2 linked regions of the Homo sapiens genome follow. The protein of the gene in region 2 interacts with the protein of the main gene of each other region in a biochemical or structural test. Each region holds a gene or a part of one and is shown on either strand. Other genes may lie near its edges.

Region 1 (7,029 bases), about 37 Mb from region 2:
GAGGGAATTCTGTGGAAAGCAGCTTCCTTTCCTGTGAGTTCCATCCTGTCTGTAATCTTCCTTTTCTGACTACCTGCCCTGTGGATTTCAGACTTGCTTATCTCATGCTCACAATTCCTTGAGGCAATTTATTTAAAAAACAAAACAAAACAAAACAAACAAAACAAAACCTCTTTTTAAGTAGGTAGATAGGAGATTGGTATGTCAATCAATTAATTGACTGATAGATAGGTAATCTTCTACTTCTACTTAAGCTTCCCGCATTGAATCCTGAGTGATAAATTATTATTAGACTTTAGTAAGTTAAGAAGGCATATGCTATGCTCTGAATACATGCAACCTCCCCACAACCCCCAATTTATATGTTTAAACCTAATTACCAATGTGATAGTATTAGGAGGTGGGGACACTGGGAAGTGATTAGGTCGTGAAGGTGGAGCTGTCATGATTTGGGATGTGTGCCTTTATAGAAGAGGCACCACAGAGCTGCCTTGTCCCTTTCATCATTGGAGGACACAGCCAAAAGGCACTGTCTATGAACCAGAGAGCAGACCTCACCAAACACTGAATCTGCTGGTACTATCTTGCTGTTAGACTTTCTAGCATTCAGAAGTGTAAGAAATACATTCCTGTTGTTTATAAGCTAGGCAGTTAATAATATTTTGTTGTAGCAGCCCAAAGAAAAAAGTTTTAGAAGTGCCCATTAACATGGTGGAACAAATCCATATGAAAACATTTTGCAATATTTCATAAGAAAGAAAACACCATATAAAATTATATTTTACAAAATAATGTGAAAGTTTTTATGGGCACTAATTTTCCCTTGACCTTTTTGCAAATTTGTATTAGTGAACTCATATAATATGTGATTCCACATTGCACTATTTCGATGTTTATAATTTAAGTAAACATATTCTACTCCACTAGATGGTGCTAATACTCTATCATAACAACACAATCCCCGGCCCCTTCCGCACAAAAGGAAAACTGATTAATTACAAGCTGATATGTTTGTTTTTCACTTTCAAAATTTAGATCCATTTGATGATGTTCAGGTTATTGGAAAAAATAAATAAGTAAAGTAATCCATTAACACAAAAAAAGTTTAGCCCGCTCACTTCCTAGTGAGAAGTAAATGCTTTCCCTTCTGGTTATTATTATATTTCCAGGTGATACGTTTGTGCCCCTAATTCTTGATTTCCAAATATAGTTCATTGCTTTTAACAACCAGATGTAGAAAACAAGGATACATCTCTTCCACAAAATCTTCCTACCAACTTCTCACAATATTTACTCTGTGAATATGTTTACTATATATAAAGAATTATCATATTGATTACCTTTTCTCTTCAAATAGTACTTAAAATTCTGGTGCTTTTTCCATCAGTGTTAAATGGCATCTTTTGATTCTGCTTGTAAGAAAAAGATATGACCGCCCCTGTTCTATTTTCCCTTGCTCCTACTACCATCTTCAAAATCTTAGTTCAGATCATCATCTGTCACTTTGGTCATGAAACTTGCCTGCTAACTAGCCTCCAGTCCTCTACTCTCCTGTTACTTCAGTCTATTCACAGAGTGACAAGTGATTCTTGCAAATCTGGTCATGTCATTCCTGTGATTAAAATTCTTCTATGACTTCACTTTTTACTTATCCAGCATTGCTAACTCCTTTCCTTGGTTTGGGAACCCCTTATCTGGCTCTTGCCACTTTCTCGGATCTCATCATGTTAAATCTCCCATGTATTTACTGTGCAAAGTCACGCTGATTTATTTGTTTATATTTTGTTGAGCATTTCAAACTTATTTTTTCCTTAGATCCTTTACACGGGTTATTTCCTCCTCTTAGAATAATTTTACGACAGATTTCTGATGACTGGCTTTGTCTCATCTTTCAGGCCTCTACTCAAATGTTCTGTCCTCAAAGTGATCCACTCATTCTAGTCCCCAAGACCAAGCCCACCTAATGTCTCTACATACTACCATCCCCATCTCTATTTTCTCTTAGGCCCTACTTTACCTCCTTCACAAAATTTTTCACAATGCTATAACTATTTTTGTTCATTAGGTTTTCTATCTATCTCCCCACATCAAAATGTAAGCTCCCCACAATTGAAGAACAATGTTTTTCATAGTTCGTGGAAGAATTTTCATTAATGTCTAGGTCTTCTCACTTCAGATACACTTTCCTGTCTGCTTTTGTTCTAACCATTATTGTATTGAGTATTATTGAGATAGGAGATGGGACTTGGACACTGGACCAAATTGAGGATTATCCAAAACAGGTCTGAGTGGAAGCCCCTCCCTGTAAGACACACAGACCAGTGTGCTATGACAGTTTACCATTACCATGGCAACACCCAGAAGTTACAGGCCCTTTCCACAGCAATGACCCAACAACCGGAAGTTACCATCCTCCTCCTGGCAATTTCAGCATTAACTACCTCTTAATTTCCATATAATTAAAAGTGCATATAAATATGAGTGCAGAACTGCCTCTGAGCTGCTACTGTGGGCACACTGCCTATGGGTAGCCCTGCTTAGCAAGGAGAGGTGCCTCTGAGGCTGCTATACACTGCCACTTCAACAAAAATTGCTGTTTAACACCACAGGCTCACCCTTGAATTCTTTACTGGACAAAACCAAGAACCTTCCCAGGCTAAGACCCAATTTGGGGGCTTGCTGTCCTACATCATTATCAACTCATGCCATAGCAAAAGTATTTAAGGTAATGATTCACTGCACTGAGTTCTAATAATAATTAGGTATATCTTGTGACATAACTTTTATTTGCCTGAATTGACTAACAATCGAATGTTCAAGCTCAGTTGAACCACCTTCAAGTAGACAACAAACGGTTATTTTGGCCCAAGTAGTCAAACTCTCAGCATGTATGTACAACGGGCTTATTAAATAGGATGCATACAAATTGAAAGGCACAGAAACATTTTTTTGAGATGTGATTTATCTTAAAACTAAAAGAAATAGCCATCTCATTTTTCTCATTCTAGATTAATGAGTAGACTAAGCCATCATATCTAAGTATTTGAGTTTAAACAATGAATACTTCATCTTACGTTTACAAGTCATTTAATTGCCAGTTAATTTTGTTTACAAAACACTACATTGGTGAAGCTTTAATTCATTTGGCTTTATTTTACAATTTAAAATTAGTTTTAGTCTGGATGCAGTGGGTCATGCTTATAATCCCAGCACTTTGACATGCCAAGTCAAGAGGATCAATAGACCCCAGGAGTTCAAGACCAGCCTGGGCAACGTGGTGAAACCCTGTCTCTACAAAAAATTTTAAAAATTACCTGAGCAGGCCGGGCGCGGTGGCTCATGCCTGTAATCCCAGCACTTTGGGAGGCCAAGGCCGGCAGATCACCAGATCACGAGGTCAGGAGATCCAGACCATCCTGACTAACACTAACACGGTGAAACTCCGTCTCTACTACAAATACAAAAAAATAGCCGGGCTTGGTGGTGGGTGCCTGTAGTCCCAGCTACTCGGGAGGCTGAGGCAGGAGAATGGCGTGAACCCGGGAGGCGGAGCTTGCAGTGAGCCGAGATAGCGACACTGCACTCCAGCCTGGGCGACAGAGCAAGACTCCATCTCAAAAAAAAAAAAAAAAAAAAAATTACCTGAGCAAGGTGGCTGTAATCCCTGCTACTTGGGATGCTTAGGTGGGAGGACTGCTTGAGCCCAGGAGGTCGAGGCTGCAGTGAGCCATGATTGCACCAGTACGCTGCAGCCTGGGTGACAAAGTGATTCCCTGTCTCAAAAAAGTAAGAATAATACTAAACAAAATCAAGTTTTTTTTTAGCCCATGAATTAAGAGTGTGAATACGTTTAACTACTGGTAAAGAGTAGGAATGTTTTTACTATAATTTGAGGAAAATAGTTATATAATTTTGGTCAAAGCTAAAAATCAATATTACTTAATATTTTAATAATCTTAATTTACCTAATTTTTTCACTTTCAAATTTTAAGGGGGCATTATTGACATACAAACACCAAGCTAATTACTTATTATTGACATACAAACATAGAACTAATTACTTATTTTCAATGTCAATATATCTTTTAACTGTTAGTTGAAAAGTGTTTTTATTCAAATGAAATAAATCATGATAAAATTATATATTTGGGAAATCCTTAATCAAATTTGTGCTAGATTGTTTTGGTAGACTAAAGTTGGTCTCTTTGTTCAATTATTCTATTTTTCTAAAATTATTTTGTGCATAAAAAACAGTAGATATTATTTTTTAAATAGCCTACTTCTAAACTTAGTAGGTATCAGAATATATTATAAAGCAAAGTTACAAAATCAATTTGGAAAAAAATAAAGCAAATGAACAAAACAGAAATAGCAAAAATAGGTATTTTGCATTAAATTTCTTTCTTATCTTCTCACTGATCTATAGTAATACTATTTATTCAATAATCCTTTGGCTTTGGTATACACAGGGGATATATATTCCAGGACTCCCACACAGGCCAAAATCTGCACATACTTAAATTCTACATTTGGCTCTCTGGAAACCGCATGTACGAAAAGTCAGTTTTTCCTATGCTTAAGTTTTGCAACCCACCAATACTGTATTTTTGACCCAGGTTTAGTTGAAACAAATTCACATAGTAAGCAGACCCCTGAAGTTCAAGCACATATTGGTCAAGGGTCAATTCTATATGCATATATACGATATGATCTAATTAGCTTTTCAAAATAAGAAATATTCAAATTATTTTATAAATAACATGAGAATAAAGATCATTTCAGAAGTAACATATATACCTTTGTAAACAGAGTAAAGAATTGTTTAAAGAAACAAACTCTAGAGACAAAGCAGAATAGAGATTATGTCACACTTAATAGGCATTTGAGAAAGAAAAAGAAAAAAGAAAAGAAAAAAATTTAGCTAGGTGTGGGAGGCTGAGGCAGGAGGATTGCTTGAGCCCAGGTGTTGGAAGCTGCAGTGAACTATGATCGCACCACTGCACTCCAGCGTGGGCACTCCAGCCTCAGGCAACAAAGCGAGATCCTGTCTCAAAACAAACAAACAAACAAACAAACAACTTAACAGTGAAAAGAGCAAGAAGAAAATTCCAGAACCATAAAAAGCAGATAGGAGAATAGACGATAGTCACATGAAGTTGGATAGAATAACAAGTATGTCATAATTAGAGATAAAACAAGATACTATCAGAACATGGGTTGAAATTCCACAACTTTCTTGAAATGTGTATTTGAATAGCTAATTTCTAATGCCAGTTATTGTTCCAGTCACAAAAAACGAACTCAGCCACAAAGAGACAGTACAATTAGGACCCTGAAAATAGAGAAAAAAAAAAAAAAACGCAACACACATTGTACCAAGTATTACTAAGTAGTACTTGTGGAAGTTAAAGTGATGGAAAAATGAATGAGCGAAAGAACAGATGAGTAACAATGAAACTATCTGGAAGCCTTTCCATTATATCTGTAGATTATGGACAGCCTGTGGAAAAAGCGTAGTAGACAGTAGTGACTAGAAAATATAAGAGAAGACAAGGTGATAACTGTTTAGTGCACTTAAAACTCTGTTGCAAGAACCCAGGAAACTCTAACATTTGTAATTCCATTGTACATCTGACCTATGTGTCCTAAGCTTAAATTTATGTTACAGTTCAGGAGTTTCTGAAAGAATATTGCTTTTTCCTTTTCTTTCTTTCTTTCTTTCTTTTTTTTTTTTTTCTTTTTGAGATGGAATCTCCCTCTGTCGCCCAAGCTGAAGGGCAATGGCATGATCTCAGCTCACTGCAACCTCCGCCTCCCTGATTCAAGCAATTCTCCTGCCTCAGCCTCCTGAGTAGCTGAGATTACAGGCACGCGCCACCACGCCTGGCTAATTTTTGTATTTTTAGTAGAGATGGGGTTTCACCATTTTGGTCAGGCTGGTCTCGAACTCCTGACATGGTGATCCACCCACCTGGGCCTCCCAAAGTGTTGGGATTACAGGTGTGAGCCACCATGCCCGGCCTGGAAGAATAATCACTTTTCTATCTATTACATTTCCAGTTAACAAGGTTTATGAAAAACTTGGCTAAGTTAAAATGTCAGAAGAAATAAAAGTGTTCTGTCAAATGTTTTTTCTTTCCTTTTTATTGTTTCATTTTTTGATGTTCAGTTACTTTATTTCCTCTGAGCTATCTTTTTATGACTCCTTATAATTTTAAGCTAAAATGCAATACTTTTTTGTCAATTACATCATCCCCTTTCCATGTACTATGGTTTTGTGAAGAAATGGGTAAAGTACACGTTAGTTAACTGAGCACGGGATAGATTGGGTGGCAGAATCTCAAAGGCCTAGGCAGGTGGGGGATGGTGTGTGTGGGGAGGAGGAGAAGGCATAACTGGGAAGAATGAAAAGTGGCAAAAGACTGCAGAATAAACAATCGAGGATTAAGCAAATAAAAGTGGGTCAATGTAGACTGGCTCAGATCTTAGAAACCAAAGGCCACACATGAAGAACATTTACCAATCTGCTTTTGAACTTATATTTGGGAACTTACTTCTACCTAAGAATAATTTTAGTTAGCAATACTTAGATATTTCATTTTTAGTTTAAATTATATGTAGGCAAAAGAGTAGCATATGCATTCCCAGGATATGCCTAAATTTAAAATAAGCAAAGCTTGCCTTGGCAGACGTCTCAGGCTCGTGCCATTTCTGTGGGCATTTTCTCTACCCCTTCTCTTATAGCACTCACTATAGCACTTCAACCAGCAGATCTGTCCTACCTGGGAAAACCCCATCTTCCAGAATCACTTTGTTCTATTCTTATCCTCATCAACATCCATTTCTACCCTCCCCCGCCCACTGAAATTGTTTCAGGGAAGTTGTCAGATGATAATAATTCAAAGTAAATTATGAATAATACTAAATTTAACTATCCTAAAATATGTATTCAGTGTATTTGTCATTCCATGTAAATGACAGATTGGTTGAAATTATAGTAATATTAATATCAACACGTAAAGTATTTTA
Region 2 (7,641 bases):
TTCCACATGTTTGGGGAGGACTCATGAAACTTACAATCATGGTGGAAGGTGAAGGGGAAGCAGGCATTTTCTTCACAAGGCAGCAGGAGAGAGACAGTGTGAGTGGGGGACTGCCAAGCACTTTTATTTAAATCATCAGACCTAGTGAGAACTCATTATCATGAGCACAGCATGGGCAAAACTACCTCCACGATCCAATCTTCTCCCACCATGTCCCTCCCTCAACTCATGGGGATTACAATTTGAGATGACATTTGGGTGGGAACACAGAACCAAACCATATCATTCCACCTCTGGCTCCTCCAAAATATCATGTTCTTTTCACATTTCAAAACCAATCATACCTTCCCAACAGTCACCCAAACTTAACTCATTTCAGCATTAACTCAAAAGTCCAAGTCTAAAGTTCCATCTGAGAAAAGGCAAGTCACTTCTGCCTATTAGCCTAGTAAAATAAAAAACAAGTTAGTTACTTCCAAGATACAGTGGGGGTATAGGCATTGGGTAAATGGTCCTGTTTGAAATGGGAGAAATTGGCCAAAACAAAGGGGCCACAGGCCCCATGTAAATCCAAAATCTGGCAGGACACTCATGAAATCTTAAAGCTCCAAAATAATCTCCTTTGATTCTTTGTCTCACATCCAGGGCATGCTGATGCAAGCGGTAGGCTTCCATGGCCTTGGGTAGCTCCATACTTGTGGCTCTTCAGGGTACAGCCCCTGTGGCTGCTTTCACAGGCTGGCATTGAACACTTGCAAGCTTTTCTAAGCACAAGGTGCAAACTGTCAGTGGTTCTACCATTCTGGGATCTGGAGGACAGTGGCCCTCTTCTCACAGATCCACTAGGCAGTGCCCCAGTGGGGACTCTGTGTGGAGACTCCAACCCCACATTTCCCTGCTGCATTGCCCTAGTAGAGGTTTTCTGTGAGGGCTCCATGCCTGCAGAAGACTTCTGCCTGAACATCCAGGTGTTTCCATACATCTTCTGAAATCTAGACAGAAACTCCCAAAGCTCAACTCTTGTCTTCTGTGCATCTGCACCCTCAACACTACTTGGAAGCCACCAAGGCTTGGGGCTTGTGCCCTCTGAAGCAATGGCCTGAGCTATATACATTGCCCCCTTTTAGCCATGGCTGGAGCCGCAGCAGCTGGCACACAGGGTGCCATGTTCCTGGGCTGCACAGAGCAGCGGGGCCCTGGGCCTGGCCCATGATACCATTTTTTCCTCCTAGGCTTTTGGACCTCTGATGGGAGGGGCTGCCATGAAGATCTTCTGAAATGACCTGAAGACATTTTCCTCATTGTTTTGGCTATCAACATTCATCTCCTCATTACTTATGCAAATTTCTGCAGCCAGCTTGAATTTTTCCCCAGAAAATGGGTTTTTCTTTTCTACCACATGGTCAGGCTGCACATTTTCCAAACTTTTATGCTCCCTTTCCCTTTTAAACATAAGTTCCAATTTCAGATCATCTCTTTGTGAACACATATGATTGTATGTTTTCAGAAAAAGCCAGGTCACTTCTTGAATGCTTTGGTGCTTAGAAATTTCTTAAGCACCAAAGCATTCAAGAAATCATGTCTCTTAAGTTAAAAGTTCCACAGATCTCTAGGGCATGGGCAAAATGCCACCATTGTCTTTGCTAAAACATAGAAAGAGTGACCTTTACTCCCGTTTCCAATAAGTTCCTCATCTCCATCTAAGGACACCTCTGCATGAACTTCATTTTCCATATCACTATCAGCATTTTGGTCAAAACCATTCAACAAAACTCAGGAAGTTCCAAGCTTTTCCACATCTTCCTGTCTTCTCCTGAGCCCTCCAAACTCTTCCAGCCTCTGCCCCTAGTTGGTTCCAAAGTTGCTTCCACATTTTTAGGAATCTTTATAGCAGTATCCCACTATCCTGGTACCAATTTTCTGTATTAGTTTGTTTTTACACTGCTATAAAGAGCTACCTGAAACCGGGTAATTTATAAACAAAAGAGGTTCAATTGACTCACAGTTCTGCATGGCTCGGGAGGCCTCAGGAAACTTACAATTATGGCAGAAGGCAAAGGGGAAGCAGGTACCTTCTTCACAAGGTGGCAGGAGAGATAGAGGGTGGGGAGGAACTGCCAAACACTTTTAAACCATCAGATCTTGTGAGAACCCACTCACTAAAATGAGAACAGCATGGGGGAAACCGCTCCTATGATCCACCCACCTCCCACCAGGTCCCTCCCTTGACATGTGGGGATTGCAATTCAAGATGAGATTTGGGTGAGGACACAGAGCCAAACCATATCAGATAGAGAGTGGTGGGACAGAGGACCACTTCTTTTAGGCATAAAGCCTTGAAATTATTTCACTTTTAAACTAGGAGCAAGAATTCAGGAGGAAGTTGGCTGGGCATGATGGCTCATGCCTGTAATCCCAGCACTTTGGGAGGCTGAGGTGGGCAGATCATGAGGTCAGGAGATTGAGACCATTCTGGCTAACATGGTGAAACCCCGTCTCTACTAAAAATACAAAAAATTAGCTGGGTGTGGTGGCGTGTGCCTATAATCCCAGCTACTCAGAAGGCTGAGGCAGGAGAATCACTTGAACCCAGGAGGCAGAGGTTGCAGTGAGCTGAGATTATGTCACTGCACTCCAGCCTGGGCGACAGAGCGAGATTCCATCTCACAAAAAAAAAAAAAAAAGAAAAGAAAAGAAAGAATTCAGGAGGAAGTTATAAACTGTGTTGAATATTGCCAAGAAGCTGGGTAAAATAAGAACAGAAAATTCATTATTAGATTTAATGAGAGAGGTGTTTGTTTATGTTGGCTTCACTAGAGTGGTGAAGGCCAATGGCTGATTTCCATGGATTGAGGAGGGAACAGGAGATGGAAAATAGAGGTTGTCAACCCACGTAAACTTTTCCTTCCTTCCTCCCTCTCTCCCTCCCATCCTTCCTTTTTTCTCTTTTCTTTCTTCTTTCTCTAAAAGATTAAATATATTATAGTATGGTTTTGTGGAAATGATCAAGTAAAGATGAATAAATTAATAATACAGAAGATAGAGAGGATACCTATAGGAGCAAAATTCCTTGCATAGTCGACAGGGTCTGGGATCCACTGAAGAATTGCAAGGGTTGGCCTTAGATGTAACACAGGGAGAGCTCATCCCTTTTAATAGAGGAAGACAGAAAGGCTGGTACATTGGGTTGTAGGAGGATATATAAGGATATCAGTTAGGTGTTAAGAACAGAAAGACTGAGTTAACAGTGATTTAACAAAAGAGGAGAGTATTTCTCCTTTAAGTAAATTTTCAGGTAGGCAGCCTAGAGCTGATGCAGTGGCTCCATACCCAATTATCCAGGCTCCATCTATCTTGTTGCCATGCCAACCTCAACATGCAGCTTACACTTGCTGGCCTGAAAGTGAACTATTCCATCTCCTGCTATCATGACTGAATACTAGTCAAAGGGAAAAAGGGGGAAGTGGGAGGGGAAAGCACATACCTTTCTTAAAGAGCACAACCTAGAGATGGTCCCTATTCTGTTCATATCTCGTTGGCCTTAATTTAATCACATCATCACTGCAAGCTACAGTGGGGGCTGGGAAATTTGGTGTTTGAGGGGATGACCAAGCGCCCAACTGAAAATGTTATTCTTCTCTTATGAGAAGTAGAGAATGGATGTTAGGGAATGGCTAGAAGACTCTACTACAAAGGATACGGTGGTTCTTTTCTGATTGCTTCTAACTTCTCAATGAAAGGTGAGTTCATCAGCTGAATGAAAGAATAAATGAGATTTTGGGGACTTGAGGAGCAAGGAGAAGGAGTATAATAGTCATTTTGAAGAGTGAGTTAAGTAGGGAACTGTAGTAAGATTGACAGACAGTGTGGAGGGATTACTTGAATCTTGTGAATAGAGGAAAGAGTAGAATCAGATTATCCTGACTCCTGCCTGAAGCTTTACATATTCAGAGAAAAATGTTGGAAGAAACTTTGATATAATGCTATGTCTGTGATCAGGCACACATTTTACTGGACTTTTACTGTCAGGGCCGTCATTTAGTGCCAAGATGTCTAGAGAGTTCTTAATAAGTGTACTCAATTGGCTGAGAAAATGTGTCCATGCAAAAAACCAAACACCGCGTGTTCTCACTCATAGATGGGAATTGAACAATGAGAATACTTGGACACAGGAAGGGGAACATCACACTCTGGGGACTGTTGTGGGGTGGGGGGAGGGGGGAGGGATAGCATTAGAAGATATACCTAATGCTAAATGATGAGTTAATGGGTGCAGCACACCAGCATGGCACATGTATACATATGTAACTAACCTGCACATTGTGCACATGTACCCTAAAACTTAAAGTATAATAATAATAAAAAAATGTGTCCATGGCTCTGGGAGGAGCATGTTTGTTTTCCTCATTTCCCAGTCTGTAAATAAGCAAATTGAAAGGGGTTAGTGATAATGTCCATCTCCAGAAGCTGTCAGATTTCCTTTGTCAAACTCTATGATTTGGGCTGAAGTAGGTGTTGGAGAGGCAGCTACCACGTGCACCCAGATGGCCACTCGTTTAATATGTTACCATTTCCCATTATTTTCGCAGGATAGATAGCCAAAGTGGAGCCCTGAGAGATTTCTTCATTTTTCCTGTCATAAAGAATTGGTAATTCAGTAGTCATAGGAGTTTGTAATAAATAACTCACATTGATTTCTCTGTTCTGAAATAATTTTGCTTCCCCTCTTCCCGAAGCTCTGACACCTGCCCCAACAAGCAATGTTGGAAAATTATTTACATAGTGGCGCAAACTCCCTTACTGCTTTGGATATAAATCCAGGCAGGAGGAGGTAGCTCTAAGGCAAGAGATCTAGGACTTCTAGCCCCTGAACTTTCAGCCGAATACATCTTTTCCAAAGGAGTGAATTCAGGCCCTTGTATCACTGGCAGCAGGACGTGACCATGGAGAAGCTGTTGTGTTTCTTGGTCTTGACCAGCCTCTCTCATGCTTTTGGCCAGACAGGTAAGGGCCACCCCAGGCTATGGGAGAGATTTGATCTGAGGTATGGGGGTGGGGTCTAAGACTGCATGAACAGTCTCAAAAAAAAAAAAAAAAGACTGTATGAACAGAACAGTGGAGCATCCTTCATGGTGTGTGTGTGTGTGTGTGTGTGTGTGTGTGTGTGTGTGGTGTGTAACTGGAGAAGGGGTCAGTCTGTTTCTCAATCTTAAATTCTATACGTAAGTGAGGGGATAGATCTGTGTGATCTGAGAAACCTCTCACATTTGCTTGTTTTTCTGGCTCACAGACATGTCGAGGAAGGCTTTTGTGTTTCCCAAAGAGTCGGATACTTCCTATGTATCCCTCAAAGCACCGTTAACGAAGCCTCTCAAAGCCTTCACTGTGTGCCTCCACTTCTACACGGAACTGTCCTCGACCCGTGGGTACAGTATTTTCTCGTATGCCACCAAGAGACAAGACAATGAGATTCTCATATTTTGGTCTAAGGATATAGGATACAGTTTTACAGTGGGTGGGTCTGAAATATTATTCGAGGTTCCTGAAGTCACAGTAGCTCCAGTACACATTTGTACAAGCTGGGAGTCCGCCTCAGGGATCGTGGAGTTCTGGGTAGATGGGAAGCCCAGGGTGAGGAAGAGTCTGAAGAAGGGATACACTGTGGGGGCAGAAGCAAGCATCATCTTGGGGCAGGAGCAGGATTCCTTCGGTGGGAACTTTGAAGGAAGCCAGTCCCTGGTGGGAGACATTGGAAATGTGAACATGTGGGACTTTGTGCTGTCACCAGATGAGATTAACACCATCTATCTTGGCGGGCCCTTCAGTCCTAATGTCCTGAACTGGCGGGCACTGAAGTATGAAGTGCAAGGCGAAGTGTTCACCAAACCCCAGCTGTGGCCCTGAGGCCCAGCTGTGGGTCCTGAAGGTACCTCCCGGTTTTTTACACCGCATGGGCCCCACGTCTCTGTCTCTGGTACCTCCCGCTTTTTTACACTGCATGGTTCCCACGTCTCTGTCTCTGGGCCTTTGTTCCCCTATATGCATTGCAGGCCTGCTCCACCCTCCTCAGCGCCTGAGAATGGAGGTAAAGTGTCTGGTCTGGGAGCTCGTTAACTATGCTGGGAAACGGTCCAAAAGAATCAGAATTTGAGGTGTTTTGTTTTCATTTTTATTTCAAGTTGGACAGATCTTGGAGATAATTTCTTACCTCACATAGATGAGAAAACTAACACCCAGAAAGGAGAAATGATGTTATAAAAAACTCATAAGGCAAGAGCTGAGAAGGAAGCGCTGATCTTCTATTTAATTCCCCACCCATGACCCCCAGAAAGCAGGAGGGCATTGCCCACATTCACAGGGCTCTTCAGTCTCAGAATCAGGACACTGGCCAGGTGTCTGGTTTGGGTCCAGAGTGCTCATCATCATGTCATAGAACTGCTGGGCCCAGGTCTCCTGAAATGGGAAGCCCAGCAATACCACGCAGTCCCTCCACTTTCTCAAAGCACACTGGAAAGGCCATTAGAATTGCCCCAGCAGAGCAGATCTGCTTTTTTTCCAGAGCAAAATGAAGCACTAGGTATAAATATGTTGTTACTGCCAAGAACTTAAATGACTGGTTTTTGTTTGCTTGCAGTGCTTTCTTAATTTTATGGCTCTTCTGGGAAACTCCTCCCCTTTTCCACACGAACCTTGTGGGGCTGTGAATTCTTTCTTCATCCCCGCATTCCCAATATACCCAGGCCACAAGAGTGGACGTGAACCACAGGGTGTCCTGTCAGAGGAGCCCATCTCCCATCTCCCCAGCTCCCTATCTGGAGGATAGTTGGATAGTTACGTGTTCCTAGCAGGACCAACTACAGTCTTCCCAAGGATTGAGTTATGGACTTTGGGAGTGAGACATCTTCTTGCTGCTGGATTTCCAAGCTGAGAGGACGTGAACCTGGGACCACCAGTAGCCATCTTGTTTGCCACATGGAGAGAGACTGTGAGGACAGAAGCCAAACTGGAAGTGGAGGAGCCAAGGGATTGACAAACAACAGAGCCTTGACCACGTGGAGTCTCTGAATCAGCCTTGTCTGGAACCAGATCTACACCTGGACTGCCCAGGTCTATAAGCCAATAAAGCCCCTGTTTACTTGAGTGAGTCCAAGCTGTTTTCTGATAGTTGCTTTAGAAGTTGTGACTAACTTCTCTAATGACCTTTGAAATCAAGTCCCTGTAAGTTTACACTTCCCATTACACAACATATCCATGGCACTTTAACCTGTCCAAGAGTCCCCTGAAGGGATTCCCTCTGACAAGCACAGTCCCTCTTTTGAGATAGCTGGCCATTCATGTAGGGCCAGTTGTGGGGGTTTTAGTACTCTCATTCTATCATTATTCCAATTTGAGGAGCAAAAACTAAAGATCATTGAGATCCATGGATCTGCTGCCAGGTTCAGTGACTGGAATGCACTTGCCCCAGCGGGTTCAAGTTCTTTGTAGAAACAGACCCCTCAAAGATGACAGCAGCTGGCTTCCTCCAGAAGTGTCCTTCAACACTGTCTTTCAGTACTAAGTGACCAGTAGAAGTTACTCCATAAAGACCATAGCCAGGAATGAATTATGGGGCTTCCTGCATATCAAATGGTTACCTAGGGA

The links. The genes of interacting proteins can lie anywhere in the genome.
Region 1: the proteins of CRP (region 2) and CFH form a complex in vitro, tested with the Homo sapiens proteins (12 studies listed by BioGRID and IntAct, with this or other methods).

The regions. Positions count from the first base shown.
Region 1 is NC_000001.11:196,655,017-196,662,045, reverse strand, and holds part of CFH (complement factor H isoform a precursor), read right to left. Parts: intron 1-7,029. UniProt on the Homo sapiens protein: Glycoprotein that plays an essential role in maintaining a well-balanced immune response by modulating complement activation.
Region 2 is NC_000001.11:159,711,788-159,719,428, reverse strand, and holds CRP (C-reactive protein isoform 1 precursor), read left to right. Parts: upstream 1-4,839; 5' UTR 4,840-4,943; coding exon 4,944-5,004; intron 5,005-5,290; coding exon 5,291-5,904; 3' UTR 5,905-7,140; downstream 7,141-7,641. UniProt on the Homo sapiens protein: Displays several functions associated with host defense: it promotes agglutination, bacterial capsular swelling, phagocytosis and complement fixation through its calcium-dependent binding to phosphorylcholine.